Regions from separate parts of the Homo sapiens genome. Here regions 1, 2 and 3 are each linked to region 4. The links come from fine-mapping of genetic effects on gene expression. A gene starts in region 4. Each other region holds a variant in brackets. All regions are shown on one strand. Distances are between the middles of the regions.

What was found. PIP is the estimated chance that this variant, and not a neighbour inherited with it, causes the effect.
Region 1: its variant is the best candidate, but not a certain one, in a credible set for the expression of PAG1 in whole blood (INTERVAL, PIP 0.62).
Region 2: its variant is the best candidate, but not a certain one, in a credible set for the expression of PAG1 in neutrophils (CEDAR, PIP 0.69).
Region 3: its variant is the best candidate, but not a certain one, in a credible set for the expression of PAG1 in whole blood (INTERVAL, PIP 0.79).

What each region holds. Positions count from the first base shown.
Region 1 is chr8:80,972,133-80,977,285 of GRCh38, forward strand. PAG1 (phosphoprotein membrane anchor with glycosphingolipid microdomains 1) reads right to left here. Exons shown (of 9, transcript NM_018440.4): 9 at 1-4,774. The coding sequence ends at 4,412. Among named protein-coding and RNA genes, the nearest start is that of ZNF704, 100 kb to the left of the region's middle. The variant T/G (reference allele first, on the strand shown) is at 2,148.
Region 2 is chr8:81,151,308-81,156,460 of GRCh38, forward strand. All of the region lies in intron 1 of LOC105375924 (a long non-coding RNA gene), which reads left to right. Among named protein-coding and RNA genes, the nearest start is that of PAG1, 42 kb to the left of the region's middle. RefSeq lists an enhancer at 2,853-2,902. The variant T/A (reference allele first, on the strand shown) is at 3,169.
Region 3 is chr8:81,162,165-81,167,317 of GRCh38, forward strand. It overlaps a transcript of LOC105375924 not described here. Among named protein-coding and RNA genes, the nearest start is that of PAG1, 53 kb to the left of the region's middle. The variant C/T (reference allele first, on the strand shown) is at 2,104.
Region 4 is chr8:81,109,226-81,114,378 of GRCh38, forward strand. PAG1 (phosphoprotein membrane anchor with glycosphingolipid microdomains 1) reads right to left here and starts at 2,843. Exons shown (of 9, transcript NM_018440.4): 1 at 2,366-2,843. RefSeq lists an enhancer at 2,289-2,358 and a silencer at 2,849-2,978.

The sequences.
Region 1 (5,153 bases), 140 kb before region 4:
TTTATTAACACCAAACATTATACTTTAACTTTTCCCCATTACACAGTACAATAAGCCTGTCAAGATTTCCAGGAAGTAATCATCAGTACCTACTGTGCTTCCAGCAGCCAAAGCTAAGCTGGCTGGGTACCAGAAATCAACACCTTCAGGAGAATGGCATCACAAGATTGCATGGACTCATATTAACTATTACAAGGGGCACTGGAAAAAAAGGTCATTTGCTCATTTACAAAATCCTAATTGAACTAAAGCTCTGTAATTATAGCCATGGTATCAGACCAGCTTTTTCGCACATCCTATCACATCGCTGCCTGCTGATGTTTTACACTGCCTATAAAGTCTCATAATTTTAAAAGGGAATGAAACAGAATGCCACAGGTGACCGACCTCTGCTCCTGCTACTTGGGAGTCACGTTGTCTTGGCTTCGTCCTGGCTCAAGGTTACTAGTCTCTTGCTGCTTTGGGCCAAATCTCTTATCTCTTTACATTTCCTCCTCTCAGGCTGAGTCAAAAGTAAGTCACATGTATAACAAAACTGTCTTAAAATACCACTGTTTTTCAGCCAAGAGAATTACGGATGCAATTTAAAGTCTAAATGTATTAATTGGAAAAATTAAATTAGAGCAACTCAAGGTTTTCCTGTAATTACCAAATGAAACTGATTGAAAAACTGTTCCTTCTAATTCTGCTTTTCCAACAAAAGTTCATCACACTAGCAGGATAAACATTCAAAATACATAATAGAACATATCCTAATTAAGCACCAGAGTTGTGTCAGAGCCAAGTATATACACACACACACGTATACGTGTGTGTGTGTGTGTGTGTGTGTGTAGTTTATTACTGGTTAAGTAAATGCTCTAATTAGCAAAAATCATGAGAAATATATACAGTGATATAATGCGGTTAAATTTTAGTTCTCTGTGTTAACTACTTACTGTTAATTTAGTACTCAATTAGAATTAACTCTGGGATTTTGAGGGCAGATAAATCAGTAATTAGCCTTTATCCCAGAAAGAATAGTGGTAGCTTCAAAAGCTTCAACAGACCTAATGATGTAATTTATTCAGGACAGAAAAAAAAATATGTAGCCAACATTCTTGCAAGAATTACTTTCTTATGGAATTTAAGATTTCCTCAAATATTTTCTTTTCTATATAGCGTTTTGTTCTTGTGTAGTTATCTGCCTAGGATACAGACAGGATATTGAGACTATTTCAGAAAGTAGACACACTAAAAACATTTGACAAATTAAAAAAATTTTGCATAAAACAGGTTACCCTTTCCTGCTGACTATACTTAAGAAATACCAAAGTAGCATACAAAATGCTTCTAAACTTTCAAAATATCTGAATAAAAACAAAGATCCTACTTTTAACTGAGATAGATTTATAATTCTTACTTACAAGATAAAAAAATTTCCTAAAATTTATTTTTAAATTTCACATAACCTGCTATAATTCGCTGTAAAAAATGGATGTCAAAATAGAATTTTAAATATACAAATTGTTTTTGATAACTACCTTTCATACATTTTATTTAAACTGTAGCATTAGCTCAAGATGAAACTTTTTAAAAGAAACCATAGGCTTTTGTCCAACTCAAAGATTCAAGCCCAGATTCTGAACAAAGTAAATGTGATGAAATTTATGAAAAACTATACTGTACAGTCAAAACAGTGATGGTGCCTCAGTAAATAACTTCAGTAAAATATCCAGTGCTCCAAATAGCTGAGCCATCTTTCTAAGGTTCACTCTGCTTCTCTCCCCCAGCCCTCATGGCCTGTGCTACCATCTATTCTTTTAGCGTTTATGCTGGAGGGCCTTATAGTTCCTTTAAAAGTACACTGAAAATACTTTATATCACAGCTTATTCTAACCACTGGTTCTCAAATTAAAAGGTATATTTCAGTGCATATTTCATAGCCACATTGCAGAACTAATATTTGAAAACTCTTGGGGGAAATTTTGGTAACAAAATTGCAAAATGACATGATTATTTATGAGCTTTCTATAAAAAGTTTTTTTTTTTTTTTTTTTTTTACTTTAGAGATCATACCTACTTTCCTGCCTTTTTGATAAGTAAGGCATGAAATGAAACAAAAGTTTTGAGCTGTAAGGTGCCTATAAAGGATGTCACTACAGCAT[T/G]CACAATGCTAGGTGTGTAAGATGACATGGCTGTTACCATGTACTAAAGAACCCCATCATGTGAGAGATCGCTCAAAGTCATTAACACAAAGCAGTGAAAATCATCCAGCAAAGCAGTGCTTATGAGAGACTAGAATTCAGAGAAATGCAAGGTACGAACTTCTCTCTAATCCAAGGGTATTCTGCTGTGATCTTCTAATCAGTGATGATTGTGCTTATGCACACGACATCTTCATGGGAGAGACCAGGCTGATTGCAAAATAATGACAACCAACCAGTTTACCTCAACATAGCTCACTCTGCAATGTCAGACATGCAGTGTAGAGCAGTCACAAAGTCAAGCCATGAATACAGGGATGGAAAAACATTCCAGTGAGCTGGTCTCTACAATTTTTAAGACACTTCATCCTCCCAATTATATTCTTTGTCATAAAGAGGAAAAACAGCAAGATTATTAAATCCAAAAAGTCACAGATGTCACAAGGGGATGAAATAATTTCCTCATTTTTTTTCTTTATCAGTGTAGGAAAAGCTGTCTTTCCATAGCCCACACTCATAATAGCACTTCAACTAGGCTCCTTTGAAAATGAAAAGTGAACAAGTTTCCTAATGCTGGCCTTATAAGATCTAAAGAGATGATTAAATTCAAACCAGGCTGAGCTCTTACTCTGAGCTATTTCAGCCACTGATGTTTGTAAAATATAGGAAGAAGATTCCAATAGGCAATTTGCATTGGCAAGCACTGGACTACAGAATTCATCACTGTTTTCTGAAAAAATATAATTAAACCTTAATGGAATTATGACACTTTTATGAGGTTTATAATTCACAGCCACCTCTCATCATATTTTGTTCTTCTTTCCATTTTTACCATTTCAAATATTGCAATATTGCCCACCATAAACCACTGAAAATGATTATTTATGTATATTCCATTTATTTCTCTAGGGGGTCTAGGTAATTTGAATCAGGAGCTCCAAGTACCATTTAAAAAGGTGAGTCTTTAAAAACCATCAGTGTTTTAAACACTTGATTAGAAAAAAGATAACAGCTCCTTGTAGTGATCTAGCTTATGTGCTTTATGGTATCTTTTCAAAAGGAGAGTATAAATCATTGTACATAAAATCAAAATAGCTAATATACATTTTTTTCTGGCACTTTTGAGAAATTAGGCATTGAACATAAAACATCTTATAAACTTACATAACAAAAATAAATGTTTACATTTTAATCTTAGATTACCTTAGGGTAGCAGTTAACTTATGAGATGCCACACTGTTGGTGTGGGCAGCGGAGACCATGGGAAATACACATTCATGTCCACAGCCCTTCAGCGATGGATGCATGGCTGCCGTCCAAATATGTGGTCTGTGTCCCAACATAAAGATTAAGGCTCTCTGTTTTGAAGGAATGAGTTCTGGGCTTAAACAAGTCTAGAAGTACCACAATACTCATGGAAAATACTGAAAAGATTCGGACGAGTTTTCAAACACTGGGGGAAACACGTTTTTGACTAGAAAAATAAAATAAAGCATCTAAAACTGACTTCAAGTACTTTGGGGAGAGGCTGCTGATATCGAATGCCAAAATAAGAAGGAACAAAGACAGAAGAGACTCCAGGGACGTCCCTCCCCATCCCTTCACCCGCAGGGTCCAGATCCCCAGGTGCTGATGCGCAACTCTTTGGGGAGGACTGGCGAGCTGGGCAGAAAGCAGCAGCCATGGTTTGTCACCATCCTAAAACACCTATATTGAGGGCAAAGGCCAAGCTTTGTGTGAAAATTTCCTTGGGATGAACCACAGGAATCTGGACATTTCAAGGGGGAAAAAGCCTTAAAGTCAGTAGCAGACAGAGAAAAGGAAAGAGAGGAAGAAAAACCTGCTTTTCTGAATGGCAGTACTTTAGGCCGGGGGCATTGTGGTCCTTGGTGAGTGCAGCTTTTCCATACAGCTTGGCTTTCCTCACTAATGAGATGAGACCACTGACAGCTGGGATCTTTTGTGGGTGGTGAGGGTGCAGCAGGGAGATGTGCTTGGGTGTACCTGTCCATCTGGCAGGCAGGGGCACACTCAGGTGCAGCCTAGTCCGTACCTCTCTGTCTCAGAAACTGAACAACTGGGAGAACAGTCGACAGGGCCTCTCCAACCATCTTCAGGTGACTAAAGCAGCATATGAAGTATAGGTTTGTGTCACTTCTTCTCTTCCACAGAAGAAACGTCTCCAGACACTGATCACAGGCTACCCAGGGTTGTCTTCTGGGTTGCTAGAGCCTGGTAATATCTCTGCCTTGCTGCAAGTCACTTATGCTCTCGTAGTCGTTCTCCTTTGGGACGAGACCGTGGTGGCCATTGGTCCCCAGGGTGGCCTTTTCTTCCTCTCTGTTGAGAGTCTGTATCGCTTCATAATCAGGCTCTGGCTCCTCGCTGGGCCTCCCTGCTGGTGGAAGTGTGCTGTTTGGAGTTTTTTCGAAGTCTTTAACAGTAGCATAGAGATCATTACAGGAGGAGGGTGACCTCTGTGGGTCCCCTTGAATGGAGGTGTAGGTGGACTCCGGAACTGTAAGCGACTGCCCCGATTTATTCACTAACTGTCCAGGTTTATTTACTGATGAGTACATAGCTGAGATCTAGGAGACAAAGGGAGAGTTGAATAAACTTCCAGCTGTGACTTCCCCCTCCCTCTTTTTAGTGACAAGCTACATACTGAGCACTCCTGGGTTTCTGTGTGTGTACTCCTTAAAGATTTGTTCTTTCTTATCTGTACTAATTATGGAGCACATTACTAGAGAATAATTACACACACTATCTTCAACTATGTTAACTAGATCAGTCATATTCCCTTAATTCCGTGAAAACCCAGTTCTCTTGGGTCTGCCGAGGAATTTGAGGAGAGGTGGAGTGGGAAGCTCCTGAAGGCCCCGGGGACCTGACCACAGCATGTGTTTTATTTCATTTCTTTATCAGAATGATATTTTGCCTGAAAAGGGGCTCCACTGCTTTACAAAA
Region 2 (5,153 bases), 42 kb after region 4:
CGTACTATTTCCTATCATAATGACATGTAACATTGTATAAATGGTGAACAGTGAGTTTATTTTATTAAATGTGGTTTAAAGTGTTTTAACTAATAGCAACAACCATAGCAAAGAAGATAATGTTTCGATTCTGGTCCTCCTTAATACCCATCTTTAAAATATTTTCTTTAAGAAATATTTAAGAATATTTTCTTTTTCTAGAACTGCAGCACCAGTATCAATACAACGGTGGGTTCTTTGATCTTTTTGTTAAAAATTTTTTTTTTAATGAAACCGGTAAGAATGATGTAGATATTATCAAGTACACATTACTAGAGCAATATTGAATTTCTGTATAAAGAAATTTAAGTATGTAATAATAGACCACTCATTTTATAAAATACTTAATTCTATGAAATTATAGTCAAGATGATTTGATTAATCCACTAAGTTTCCTTCAAATTGAATTTGGCTAGCTCTTACTTAGGAAAACTGACTTCTATTGAGACCAAATTGCTGCAAACTGAATCATTGTGTGTTCGAAGTATGCGAATCTCCCAGGTGAGACTCAGGATGGCAACACAGGCATCTAGAAGCAATTTAAGAAGTGATTAAAGCCCAAGAGCATAGTGAAGGAAAAGAAAACAAATAACAAAGCAATGGCTGCATAGCACGTGTTATTAAGTCCATCAAAGGTAATTATGAAAAATATCTTAGACAAGGGATTGATGATCTCTTCTTAGAATGAATACTTTTAGTAAAACATCTTTAAAATATCTCTGTTTTAAAATTTTTGTATATAGATCTATCAGAGATCTCTCTTTTTAAACTAAAGGGAGACACAATGAAAAGTTTGGAGATCAGTTGTTCAAAAAGTTTAAGATTAGCCGGGCGCGGTGGCTTACGCCTGTAATCCCAGCACTTTGGGAGGCCAAGGCAGGTGGATCACGAGGTCAGGAGATCGAGACCATCCTGGCTAACACGGTGAAACCCCATCTCTACTAAAAATACAAAAATATTAGCCGGGCATGGTGGCAGGCACCTGTAGTCCCAGCTACTCGGGAGGCTGAGGCAGGAGAATGACGTGAACCCCGGTGGCGGAGCTTGCAGTGAGTGGAGATCATGCCACTGCACTCCAGCCTGGGCGACAGAGTGAGACTCCGTCTCAAAAAAAAAAAAAAAAGAAAAAAAAGTTTAAGATTAGAGTTATTTAACCTGATGATGTCTAAAAGCACACCTTTGCCTCTCCCAGTGAAGCAAACGTTGAAGGAAAAAAAAAAATCCTAAAGAATGAAAAAGAAACTTGAAGCAAAGTATATGATCCACAATTTGGTGTACAATGTCATTCACAACAGTCTTACTGATATGACTTCTGGAGCTGATTTTTTTCATGTGTGAGCGTTTACCATTTTATGTTTAAGTTTATATCAATTTTTCAAATTACCTTTAAACTGTTAGGCCTGTAAAAAAAAAAAAAGAATTAATTCTGAAGGGAAATAAAATTATCATGCAGGTCATTTAGCTTAAGATAAAAGTCATTTCATTGTATGCCCCAAGTCTTACTCAAAGAAAGTCTGTGAGTTCTTTTCAAGGCTCAGGAATAGAATCCCAACTAAGCAGGGGGAACTCTTACTGTAATTTTAACTACCTGTATTCAATAGTCATGGTGATTTTGATTTGCTTTTCTTTTACTAATTTTTTTTCCTGTTCCATGGTTTCCATGGTGAATTCCTATAATACAGGTAGACTAATCCTATCTTCCTTTGAGTCAAACAGTTCCAGAGGTGATGTATCACAGTGGGCCCTATGAAATCCAATCAAACCAGGGAGAGGCTAGTTTCTAGTTTCAGAAAAGAAATTTACTCTCAGACAATATATAAGCTTCCAATAATTAGAAAGGAAAATCAGTTTAAAAGATTTAACGAGTTTTTATCTTCATAATTAGTCACATCATTTTGTTAAAAGGGAAAAAAACAGGCTTCAATGAGCCTTCTGTACCATAATAACAGATTTGCATGGTGTGTTGCAGTTTACAAAGCTTTCTTACATCTAATTGCATTCTAATTTATATGGTGTCTGTTTACTTTTCTATCAGATTTTAGAACTCTGTTGTGATCACTCATAATCTGAAACTTGAAGCTATAAAGATGGCTAAGCAATAGCAGATAAATTGTCTTGAATAAAATATAACAGAGAATGATAATGACAGCCCCGGAAGATGCTTGTTAATATATGATTCCACCTCTAGCATGATCTCAGAGCCGGGGCTTCAGAGATAACATTGATGTGAGACTCTACTGGACTTAATTTGATTTTTAAAATTATTATTCAAAATCACTTCCTAGGAGACAGTATTATTATTTAAGTTTAGTTTTTAAAACCATTTCATCTCTACCACTATTGCTTTTAAACTTTTCTAGATTGCATTCTTACAGAAAAGCCTCTTTGCAGTCAACATCCACAGAAAAGAAATAGAAGCAATTGATCTGCAAGGACCTGCCTTTGAAATATTGACACATTGAGGTAAAATCAAATGCTTCACATTGTGAAAATAGCTAACGCTCTTGTTTGTGAAATTCAAATAAGCATTTCCTCATCATTTGCATAGATCCAGTTTCGCTTCCTAATTTCCATACTGCCACCTGGATGCATTCAGGCTGTTCTGTGACACAGTTGAACTAGTTTAGAAGGTTCCTCCTTTGTCTCTGGGCTCCTTTTCTTTTATTCCCCTAGGACTCTTTGCTGCAAATGATTTTATCTGAAGCTGTGTCTGAACAAAAATAGACAAATGGAGAACTGAGGCAATTATACTATTAATTCAAGCAGAGAAAAAAGCACTTCGCCTGAGTTATCTGGCATTTCCTGGCAAAAATCTTTTTCTATGTCAATGATCTAGAAGATTGCCTAACTTCTTTTCTTCAGGGGTGTAGATGTGGCCTATGTCACATGGCTCTCATTGCCTCATTTCCTGCTGCTTCAGACTGTGTCTATTCTAGGAAGGCTGACACATGATGAGAAGAGTCAGTGGTCCTGAGGTACAGTACTTAAGATAACCCTGTGAAGGCTGAGATTGATATTTGAAATTCACAACTGATCTTGGAGCCTGGTACAGCAGTCATGGTAAGCTGGACATACATACACACACACACACACACACACACACACACACACACACATATATATATATAT[T/A]TTTTTTTTGAGACAGAGTTGCCCTCTGTTGCCCAGGCTGGAGTGCAGTGGCGCAATCTCAGCTCACTGCAACCTCTGCTTCCTGAGTTCAAGCAATTCCCTTGCTTCAGCCTCACAAGTAGCTGGGATTCCAGGCATGAGCCACCGCACCCGGCTAGTTTTTGTATTTTTAGTAGAGACAGGGTTTCACCATGTTGGCCAGGCTGGTCTCAAACTCCTGACCCCAGGTGATCCACCTGCCTTGGCCTCCCAAAGTGTTGGGATTAACAGGTGTTAGCCACTGCACCAGGCCTGGACCAATACTTTTATTCATTCTTTTACTCACTGAGTGCGTGCTCTGTGCTAGGTCTTGGAGATACAAAGATGACAATGTCTTGGCACTTGTACTAGCAGTTTAATACACATTAAGAAGTAGTTACAACACCATACAATAAGTTTGAACAATGATTCCATTGAGGGGAAAAGCGTATACCCTCTAAAAGATTTAAAGTAATAGAAGCAGAGCCACAAAGGCAATTCTCCACGAATGCACTTCTTCTGTGTTATCTTGTTTGCTTTCGCCTACAATCCCTTAAAAATGACATAAGCCAGTTTCACTGGAGATTCATTTACTATCTCTTAAGGATACTCGGTCTCTGAGAGTTGTGGGGTGGACACTTTCAACAGACCAGGGTTTGGCAGAGGTTTGTCATGCCTTTTTGCCAAGGGCTCACCCTGGCAGATGGCAACAGCTGTTTGTGATTGTCAAGAAAGTGCAGGAGGAGCCCTGCAAAAATGTCCTTTTTATTACACCATTGACTTCTTTCCTGAGAGTGGTTTTTCACTGTATCAGTGCATAATTGATTTTGCTAACGCATTTACTCTAATCATACAAAAACCTAATTACTCTATGTAATGAATCATTAACAATTTCCTTAAATTCATTTCAGTGTTTGCATGCTGGTATTCAATTTATGCTAATAAACCCAAAATATTCATGTCTTTAAGTCAGAGATTGCAGACTATGCTAAAAAATTTGTTTTACTAAATGTACATTTTAAATCTGTATTTTATAAAATACTGAGGTGTAAAGTCTGCAAGATTATTCTGAAATACACAGCATTCAAATTTTCTATTTACTTTTTAAGCAGAGTTCTTTTTATCTCCTTCACACTCCGAATTCACTTAGCTACAACAAAATGACACGTGGTCATGTTTAACTTAAGAGCATTAATTGGTGTTTGGTAATGAAAGATCAAAAGTGACTGATGTCAAACTTTTTCACTTTGATTTATTCACATTGAGATTCAGCCTTTGATTCATTTGCTGAAATAGATATTAGGAATAAGTACCTTATTTTTATTACTAATGAGTACCTTATTTTATTATTTTAATCAAAGAAGAGGAAATTAAACCTTGAATTCTAGCCATAAAAATATATCACTATAAAATCAGATTTTTTTACAGTACTGCCATTATTATTATTACCTTATTATTAAACACATACTATGCACTTAAGTGTCCATTTACTCTGATAAGTGCTTAATGTTCACCAATTCATTTAATCATCTTCTAAACCTATGAGGTCAGTACTATTATTATACTCATTTTATAGACAAGAAACAGATTTAGAGGGCTGGGCACCGTGGCTCACACCTGTAATCCCAGCACTTTGAGAGGCCAAGGTGGGCGGATCACCTGAGGTCAGGAGTTCGAGACCAGCTGGCCAACATGGTGAAACCCTGTCTCTACTAAAAATACAAAAATTAGCCAGGTGTGGTGGTTCACGCCTGTCATCCCAGCTACTTGGGAGGCTGAGGTAGGAGAATAGCTTGAACCCAGGAGGCAGAGGTTGCAGTGAGCCGAGATGGCACCACTGCACTCCAGCCTGGGCAACAGAACAAGAGTCCATCTCAAAAAAAAAAAAAAAAAGAAAAAAAAGAAAAAAGAAAAAAAAAAGAACAGATTTAGAGAAGTGAAGCAACTTGCCCAAGGTTACACAGTGT
Region 3 (5,153 bases), 53 kb after region 4:
AAGAGTCTTAATTTGTAAATAAATGTGAGAGGCATTTGAAATTAAATTTATTTTTGTTTGACACAATGGCTGGGAACACCTGGCATTTAAAGGACAGGGGCCAGGGATGTAAGCAATCTTACAATGCATGAGAGAGTTCTGCACAAAGAAAGAAATGTTCTGTCACTAATTCTAACAGCACTCCTATTGAGGAACACTGGTGGAGTTGTTTTCATGTATTTGTTATCTTTTTAAAATATTTTATTGCACTTTGATGCAACAGAAAACAGTATCTTTCGCTGCCAATTATTTCAGGTACAGTTTCCCCCAGCTAAGTTCTAAAGGCCTTGAGGGCAGAAGTCATCTTGTATATTTCTCTTGTATCCTTATACAGTGAAAGCAGAAAAATACCTTTATTTTGCTATGTCTCTTGTTTTCTCCATATGCAGTGGCATACTCTCATTTTATCCATTTCTGACAGGAATGAAAGAAAAGATATACGCAAAGTGGATTCTAATCATAGGTGAGGACTAATTTTTGTTTTAAGGACTCAGCATGCAGGAAATAATATACAAGTATTAGCTCTTATTAATGATAACAATGGGAGGCATATATAATTTCTTGATTAAAGCAAATGCCAGCCTTAGTTATCAGGTTTTCTTTTTGTCATCACTTTGCCCATTTTCTTAAACTCATATCTTTACAATAGAATTAAATTTTTTTTGGCTAAATCAATCAACAAAAAGTCTATTTTCTAAATCACAACATAATCCCAACTCTCTAATAGTTATTTCTTCGTGTTATTTCACAAATTTTGTCCACATGTAGTTAATTTTTAAAAATAAAATCTTTATTTTTTAGAGCAGATTTCAGATCACAGAAAAATTGAGTGGAAGATATAGAGATTTCCCATATGTCCCCTGCCCTGAGACATGTATAGCCTCCCCCATGATCAACATTCCCCTCTAGAATGCTACATCCATTACAGTTAATGAACCTACATTGACACATCATTATCACCCGAAGTCCATAGTTTACATTAGGGTTCACCCTTGGTGTTGTACATTTTATGGGTTTGGATAAATGTATAATGACCTATATCCAACATTATGGTACAGTCATTTGTTGCATAACAACATCTCAGTCAATCACAGACTGCATATACAAGGATGGTCTCATAAGATTATAATACTGTAACTTTACCGTATCTTTTCAATGTTTAGATATGTTCAGATACACATATACTTACCATTGTGATATAATTGCCTATAATATTCAATGTAGTAACATGCTGCCTAGGTTTGTAGACTAGGAGCAATAGGCTGTATGTGTAGGCTACAGCATCCAGATTGGTAGAAGTATATTCTGTGATGTTCGCACAGCAATGAAATTGCCTAATGGCGCATTGCTCAGAATGTTTCCCTGTTGTTAAGTGATGCATGGCTACGTCATACAGAGTAGTTTCTCTGCTCTTAAGATTCTCTGTGCTTCACTCCCTTCTGACCTCTGGAAACAACTGATATTTTTGTCTCCATTATTTTGCCTTTATAGTTGGTTTTTAAATTAGAAATAATAAATACTGAATATGTAGTTATTATGACTTTTTTATTCACTTAGAATCATTTTGTAAATACTTTTCAATGTTTCTACCTAATGATCAGAGTTATAATTTTAATAGCTGCATATAGTCTAGCATATTTACTGTAGCTTTTTCCTTTATTGTTGGACAATTTGTCTTTGGTCTTTCATGAGTTACATATAATATTTCTATCTAGTCTTTTTGCCATTGATTTTTCTCATGCTCTATTACATATCACCCCCCACCCCCAACTTCACTCACCAATTATTGTCTACTTGCTTGGCTTCTGACTATTGTGGTTTATAGATGCATGCTGACATCAATTTGCCTACCTGCCTTAGCTTCGATCATTGATAGTGCTTGATCTTTCCAGCTTTTCTTCAGTATTCACATTCTTGGCTCACAATAGCTGGTACTTCTGATACTATGCTGCTCAAAAAGTACTTGGTCTAGTGTGAGGCCCATGTGGGTAATCAGTTGGATGATTCATGGTAAGAGAAAAGACATATCCTAGAATAATTGAAATTTTCTTTCTTTCTTTCTTT[C/T]TTTTTTTTTTGACAGAGTTTCATTCTTGTTGCCCAGGCTGGAGTGCAATGGTGTGATCTTGGCTCACCGCAACCTTGACCTCCTAGGTTCAAGTGATTCTCCTGTCTCAGTCTCCTGAGTAGCTAGTATTACAGGCATGCACCACTATGCCCGGCTAATTTTGTATTTTTAGTTGAGATGGGGTTTCTCCATGTTGGTCAGGCTGGTCTCGAACTCCCGACCTCAGGTGATCCACCTGCTTCAGCCTCCCAAAGTGCTGGGATTACAGGTGTGAGCAGCCGTGCCCTGCTGAAACTTATTTGTTTGAGCAATAAAAGCCACATATTTCCTCTTTTGATAAAGTGTAAAATTATAGTACTCTTCCAAGATACTCATGGATTGATAACAAAAAACTAACAACTGGATATTGTTTTAAATATTGAAGAAAAGCAAACAAATCAACATCAGCCATAACATTGCTTCATATGCCAAAACCAGGATGAAATAATGCTTTTATAGAAGATGTGACCTGGGATCAAATAGCATCATTTACCAAATGCAAAGGATTGGTGTAGCTCTTGACTTCAAGGCATATTAAATCTAGCAAAGCTAAGATTCAATATAGATGTAGGTCCAATTTCATGACAAAAAATCAAAGAAACCAACCAAAATCAGAGAACTTAGTAAGTTTGTGGGTATGCAATCTACAGAAGTGAATTATATATATATGATAAAAGAGAAGAAAAGACTCTATTTACAATTCAACAAAAAAGATAAAACGCTTAGGAATAAGTATGAGAGATGGGCATGATTTATATAAAGAACATTTTAAGATGCTACCAAAAAACACAAAATAAAATGAATAAATGGGAAAGCATATAATTTCTTAGATAGGAAAAGTCAACATCACAAAAATTTAATTCAATAAAAATAGCAACAGCATTTTTATTTTGTAATCAGAGACAAGCTAATACTAAAGTTCAAATGAAAAAATAAAAAACAAAAATAGTCAAGAAAAATCTGGAAAAGTGATCATAAAGAGAACTAGTTCTTTCACACATTTAAACACATTTTAAATCTTCAATAATAAAAATAATGTGTGAGATCTGGCAAGCTGGCCAAATAGGAACAGCTCTGGTCTGCAGCTCCCAGTGAGAACAACACAGAAGGTGAGTGATTTCTGCATTTACAACTGGGGTACCTGGCTCATCTCATTGGGACTGGTAATACAGTGGGTGCAGCCCATGGAGGGCAAGCCAAAGCGGGTCAGGCGGTGGGGGGTGGGGGTGGTCACCTCACCCAGGAAGCACAAGAGGTTGGGGAACTCCCTTCCCAGCCAAGGGAAGCAGTGAGGGAATGTGCCTTGAGGGACGGTGCAATCCGGCTCAAATACTATGCTTTTCCCACAGTCTTCGCAACCCGCAGACCAGGAGATTCCCCTGGCTGCCTACACCACCAGGGTCCTGAGTTTCAAGCACAAAACTGGGTGGTTGTTAGGGCAGACACTGAGCTAGCTGCAGGAGGCTGGAAAGCCAAGCAGAGCCAGAATGGACAGAACCATTCACTCCCCTGGAAAGGGGGGCTGAAGCCAGGGAGCCAAGTGGTCTTGCTCAGCAGATCCTACACCCACGGAGCCCAGCAAGCTAAGATCCACTGACGTGAAATTCTCGCTGCCAGCACAGCAGTCTGAAATCCACCTGGGATGCTCCAGCTTGCTGGGGGGTAGGGGCATCCGGCATTACTGGGACTTGAATAGGCGGTTTTCCCCTCACGGTGTTAAAAAAAATGCCAGAGGGAAGTTCAAATGGGACGAATCCCATCGCAGTGCAGCAAAGCTGCTGTAGCCAGACCACATCTCTAGATTCCTCCTTTCTGGGAAGGGCATCCCTGAAAGAAAGGCAGCAGCCCCAGTCAGGGGCTTATAGATAAAAACTCCCATTTCCCTGGGAGAGGGCACCTGGGGGAAGGAGTGGCTGTGGGCACAGCTTCAGCAGACTTAAACGTTCCTACCTGCAGGCTCTGAAGAGAGCAGCCGATCTCCCAGCACAGTGCTTGAGCTCTGCTAAGGTACAGACTGCCTCCTCAACTGGGTCCCTGAACCCCGTGCCTCTTGACTGGGAGATACCTCCCAGCAGGGGTCGACAGACACCTCATACAGGAGAGCTCCGGCTAGCATCTGGCAGGTGTCCCTCTGGGACAAAGCTTCCAGAGGAAGGAACAGGCAGCAATCTTTGCTGTTCTACAGCTTCTGCTGGTGATACCCAGGCAAACAGGGTTTGGAGTGGACCCCCAGCAAACTCCAGCAGACTTGCAGAAGAGGGTCCTGACTGTTAGATGGAAAACTAACAAACAGAAAGCAATAACATCAACATCAACAAAAAGGATGCCCATGAAAAAACCCTATCCAAAGGTCATCAACATCAAAGATCAAAGGTAGATAAATCCACGAAGATGAGGAAAAACCAACGCAAAAAGGCTGAAAATTCCATAAACCAGAATGCTTCTTCTCCTCCAAAGGATCACAACTCCTTGCCAGCAAGGGAACAAAACTGGATGGAGAATGAGTTTGATGAATTGACAGAAGTAGGCTTCAGAAGATGGGTAATTACAAACTCCTCTGAGCTAAAGGAGCGTGTTCTAATCCAATGCAAGGAAGCTAAGAAACTTTATCAAAGGTTACAGGAACTGCTAAGTAGAATAGCCAGTTTAGAGAAGAATGTAAATGACCTGATGGAGCTGAAAAACACAGCATGAGAACTTCATGAAGCATACACAAGTATCAGTAGCTGAATTGATCAAACAGAAGAAAGGATATCAGAGACTGAAGATCAACTTAATGAAATAAAGCATGAAGACAAGATTAGAGAAAAAAGAAAGAAACGGAACGAACAAAGCCTCCAGAAATATGGGACAATGTGAAAAGACCAAACCTACATTTGATTGGTGTACCTGAAAGTGATGGAGAGAATAGAGCCAGGTTGGAAAACATACTTCAGGATATTATGCAGGAGAACTTCCCCAGCCTAGCAAGACAGGCCAACATTCAAATTCAGGAAACACAGAGAACACC
Region 4 (5,153 bases):
GTTGTGGGTGCTGTTAAGCACTTTGCATACTTTAATCCTTAAGCTTAGATTTCTTCATGTATAAATTGAGGATAATAATGCAACTACTTCATTTGCAAGTTGAGGCAGCAGGGTCAAAAAGAACACAGTTTCAACACAGACAGACGTGGGTTAAATGCCAGCTCCAATTTCTACTATTTGATCTCACTGAGCTCCCATTTTCTCATCTCTAAAGTAGAGATGAAGCCACTTACCTCAAAGGACTGTGGTGGGGAATTGAGCAAGACAGTGTTAAATACCAGTTGGTGTCTGTATCGCTAGACAGTGCACAATAAATGTTTATACCTTCTCTCCTATTATACACATGAACTGCTTCTGTTAATATTCATCAGCAGCAATTCAATGTCCATAGCAGCAATTCAATGTCCATAGAGTCCAAAGATGCATTTCCTTTCATAACAATGAAAATTTTTCCCAGAACAAGCTTAATATGCCAGATACTGGCCCAACAGCTCTATGTCTATGAACTCATTTAATTCTCACTACTGTTCAGTGGGGTAGGTACTACTACTGTCATCCCCATTGTACAGATGAAGACACTGAGGCACAGACTTTGGGTTACTTGCCTAGATTCAAACAGATGGTACCAGAGCTGGCAGCCTGGCTCCATAGCCTGTCCTCCTAACCAGGCTGCAATAGGGCTTAATGGGTCAATCTGTTTGAGATTCCATGCTTGGATGTAATCTCTTCTAGAGATAAGCACTGGATGCTCTCACAAACCGCAATGTGTTGATGTGACTAACTTTTCAACTTCTGAAATAACATTTTGTGTATTTTCTTAGTATTCCTAAAAAAAAACCCTTTACACTTTAAATAAGGTGCCTATAACTAGTTCATCTTGTTCTGCATGCTGAAATACCATAAATAAATGCACTTCTCTCTTCAAAGATTATGTAAATAAATCTTACATTAAAACATACCCCTGAGCTTTGGTTTAAACAATAATTTCAAGTCCAAATTAAACATTTATGTATGTGTATATATATTTAGCAGGAAAGTCTTAATATGACCTATTTTGTTAAACTAATGACATCTATACCCAATACTCCAAATATTCCTCTTATTTATAATATTCGCTGTGTAACAGTCACACAGCAGTACTGCATGGTACTTCAAAGTACTATTCCTTTTACAAGTTTAACCAACTCAGGTATTAAACATCAATGATGATAATCCATAGCTCTGCTTAAAAGGAATCTCTCGGGAACAGCTGAGAAAGAAAGGTTAAAGATTTCTATCCTTCAAAGTAGGGCACTGCAGCTACCTATAAATCATGCTCTTTGTTTATTAAGATAATTAGGCCCATCAGTACACTTAACTTTTAGACTCAACAATTGTCTGGCATGAACAATTTCCACTTTTTCTAAAACAAAGGGGATGTGTTCAAAAAGCGGTCCTCTGCATGCTCTCTGCACAATGCATGCTATTTTAAAACATGATTTATGGGTCTAATTCCTGGAGCTGCCTTGAAAAATATAGTGGGTTGTTCCTCCCATGCTCCCTATTAGGAGAAGACACTCCAATTTGAAGAGTGCACTCTGTTTCAGACTTCAGGCCGCTATATCATGTCAGCATTTTCAGTAAATACTGTTCAATTGGACTTTAAACAAATGGAATGGAGGGCCACAGCTGCAGCCACTGCAGAGATAAAGTTATCCAGCCGGGAGGCTTACATAAGAGGTGCAGGACAATCAGGGTGAAATCCAAGTGTCATTATCTGAATCCTATTTCTTGAGACTTGCCTACATTCTTAAAGTGTATGAATTCACACGCCCAGAGCTCGTTTTATTTGCCTTAGGGCATAAAACACCGGGTCGACATATAAGTTGTTTTTTCCCTAAAGGACTAGGCTCCAATTATGAAAAGGTTGGCAACTTCTGCCTAGGGGAAGAGTAAAGCGGGATGCGCGGGAAGCCTGCAGGCCTGAAAGAAATGGCTCGCCCAAAGATCCATCGCAGTGCTGGCCACACTCCCCAGAGGAATTAGGATGGAGGTGACAAGACCCTGCCCAGCCCCTTCACCCCAACGTAAACACAGAGTCAAGGAGCTTGGAATGAATAATTAGCACGCAGCAGTCGAAATGCCCTAGGAGTACCTGTCCTCTCCCAGCATATTTCCAACTGGCACATTCGTGAGATGCTGAGGTCAGCCAGCCCTGGACTCCAGACCTTCCAGCTGCCTTGTCCCCTTCTTGGCACCCCGCACTCCCTCCTCGAGCTGGAACTCTGTTAACAAGAGGTGCCACCCTCGGCTTCCCACAAGAAGATAAAAACGAACCTCTCCTTCCCACGGCTCCCTCCAACTTCAGAAACTACAGTCAACTTACTGGGACTCAGGAGGCAGGGAGTCTTCCTGGCGGACGGCGCTCGGAGGCAGCCTCTGCAAACTCCGGCGCGCAGCGCCGCCGCCCCGGCACAGCCCGGCAGCAGCGGCAAGTGCAGGACCAGGCGCCGCCGCTCTGCACCAGTCGCCTTGGCTCAGCTGTGCCGGGCGCCGGGCATTCGCCAGGGCACACGACTCAGCGAGGCGGCGGCTGGGACTGAGGCTACTGCACCCGGCCGCGCGGACCCGAGCGCTGCAGCTGCCTCCAGCCCCGGAGCGCGGCGCTCCGAGCCCCTGGTGGGTGTCTCTGGCTCCAAGGGAATCACGGCTCAATTAGGGACCTGCCAGGAGAAAAACCGATGCGCTGCCGCAGGCAGAGCCGCCAGCCCGCCCCCAGTCGGCTGGTCACATCGCGGGCGCGCAGACGGACAAGCGAGCGGGAGGGTACCGCAGCCAGCACTCGCCGCCGCGCCGCGGAGAATGACAGGCGCCGAGGCGGAGCAGCCGCGCGGGGAGCGGGGCGCGAGTGCGCATGATCCTGGCCGCAGCGGCACGTCACGGGGGAGGAGGGGCGGGCCGCGGGGCGGGAGGGGGCGAGCCGGGCGGGGCCGGGCTGGGGGTGCACACGGGTGAGGACCGGCGCGGGGCCTGGCTTGCTCGCGGGAGGATGCAGGAAGTCTTCCCTGCCCTGATTTTATGAACCCAAAGCTCTGTGGTTGAACTTGTCCCAGGAGCCCATTGTCCTTTAAACAGCACCGTTTAAGCGGTCCTTAAGGTCCCTGGGGAGCCCACAAAAGCCAATTTAATTCAGGTTACAGCTTAACCGTAAAGGGTTGCCATTTGGGGGACAGTGATCTTCTATTGTGGCTGTGCATTAAAATAACTTGGGGAGCTTGTAAGAACCCTTTGCCCCGGACGCATCCCAGAACAAGTACAGGACAATGTCTGGGTGGGGCCCACCCAGGTATCAGTAGGTATCTAAAGATACCAAGGTACAGCAGTGCTTCTCAAACCCTCAGTGTGTGACAGAATCTCCTGCGGATTGTGATGAGATGCAAGATTCAGATTCAGTAGGCCTGGGATAATGAGGGAGACATCCTTTCTAACAAGCTCTCGGAGGATGCCAATACTGGAGGTCCAGACCCCCATCCTTGCTACTTAACGTGTGATCTAGAGCCTGGAGCAGAGCTTCTGAAACAGTTGGCCTGTCTGACAGTCACCCGAGGGGCTTATAAAAAACGCAGAACAAATGCCCAGGCCGTACCCCCAGTGATAGTGGTTCTGGCTCAGCCCCTGGCAAAGGTGGGCTTCTAGAATTCCATTTGGCATCAACACTCTAAATAAATCTGATAGGGGTTTTGTTTGGGCCAAACTTCAAGTTTACACTAGCAACCTGGAATTGGGAATAAACTTTTGCACTTACAAGGAGACAAACCAAGTCTAGAACTCAGGACATCTGACTTTGAGTCAGGGATTCTAAACCAACGGGTGCTTTATCTGACTAGTCCCAATTTTCTAAAATTATGATGCATTACTTAGCAAGAAAAAACATATAAATGGCATTAAATATACACACACACACTCTATTGAACACTCGTTACACATATCATTAATGGGAGCTTAAAGGTGGCTGGGGAAGAAGGCTCATCAGGAGAGGGTAAGGAAGACAGTGATGGAGTAAGGGATGTTGTTAGTGTGTCGCAGAGGGAAGGGTATGTGGGAGGAAACAGTTTAGACTCAGCCTACAGCTTGGAAAAGCCCATTGGGGAAGCGGACCCAGGAACCAGACTTGGCCTCTTGCTTCAGAGCATGGTATGAAACTCAGGTGTTTAAGAACTTATGGAGTATAACATTTCACATACGTTACCTCACTGAAATTTCACAGTGGTCTCTTAAGTTGAATAATAATATAAAAAAGTATCCCCATTTTATATATTAAAGAAGACATCCTGGACATGAGTTGACTAATGGTGGAACTTGAATAAAAGTAGGGATCTCCGTGTTGGACTTGGCTTCTACAACTCTGGAGAAGAGGACAATTTAGACCTTATAAAGCAAATGGTTTCTGTGTTTACTAGTCACATCTTTTACAGGCTGTGCCTAAATTTGGAGTTAGGAAGGCTTTCATTCTTGTGGGGAGGAAATACATTTTGTGTCTTCCAGTTTTGCTACACTTGTTAGGATACACTTAGAACAAAATGTTCTAAGAGCAACCCGGTCCTAGGACATTGCAGTTCCACAGTGCAGGCTTCATTGAGGAGTTTGAAGGGCAATATTCACGTTATCTGGTGACAAGTGTAATTACCATCCTCATTTTACCCAGGCTCAGAAGCTAAGTGATTTAGACAAATTCACGAATGCAGGCAGGAGCCAATCTCTAGCCTCTGTCCTTTTCCTCTGCTCTCTTTTCACCAAGTAACATGCTGAGGATTGTTTTTCATTTCCAAATTTTTCATATCAGGATTTGCCATCAGTAAATTGGAACTCAAATGTATTTCAAAGCCACTCCTAGATAGAGAACCAAAAGTGTCAGGATCAATTCTTGTGCTTGTGGTAGATGCTATGGGCTATACTCTCGGTCTGAGTAATGTTTTGGAAGCAAGTATGTGATAGTTATATACAGTCTTCTAATCCAGAGGTTTGACTGGGAATGCTACACTGCCAACTGTGGTCTACCTGCCTTTATCTTTACTTCTTATCTAACTCTTCCATTACAGCCATTCTTCGGTGTGATTATGAAATTAATTCCTAAGAAAAAAGAATTCTTTGAAGGAGCTGGTACATCACAGGTT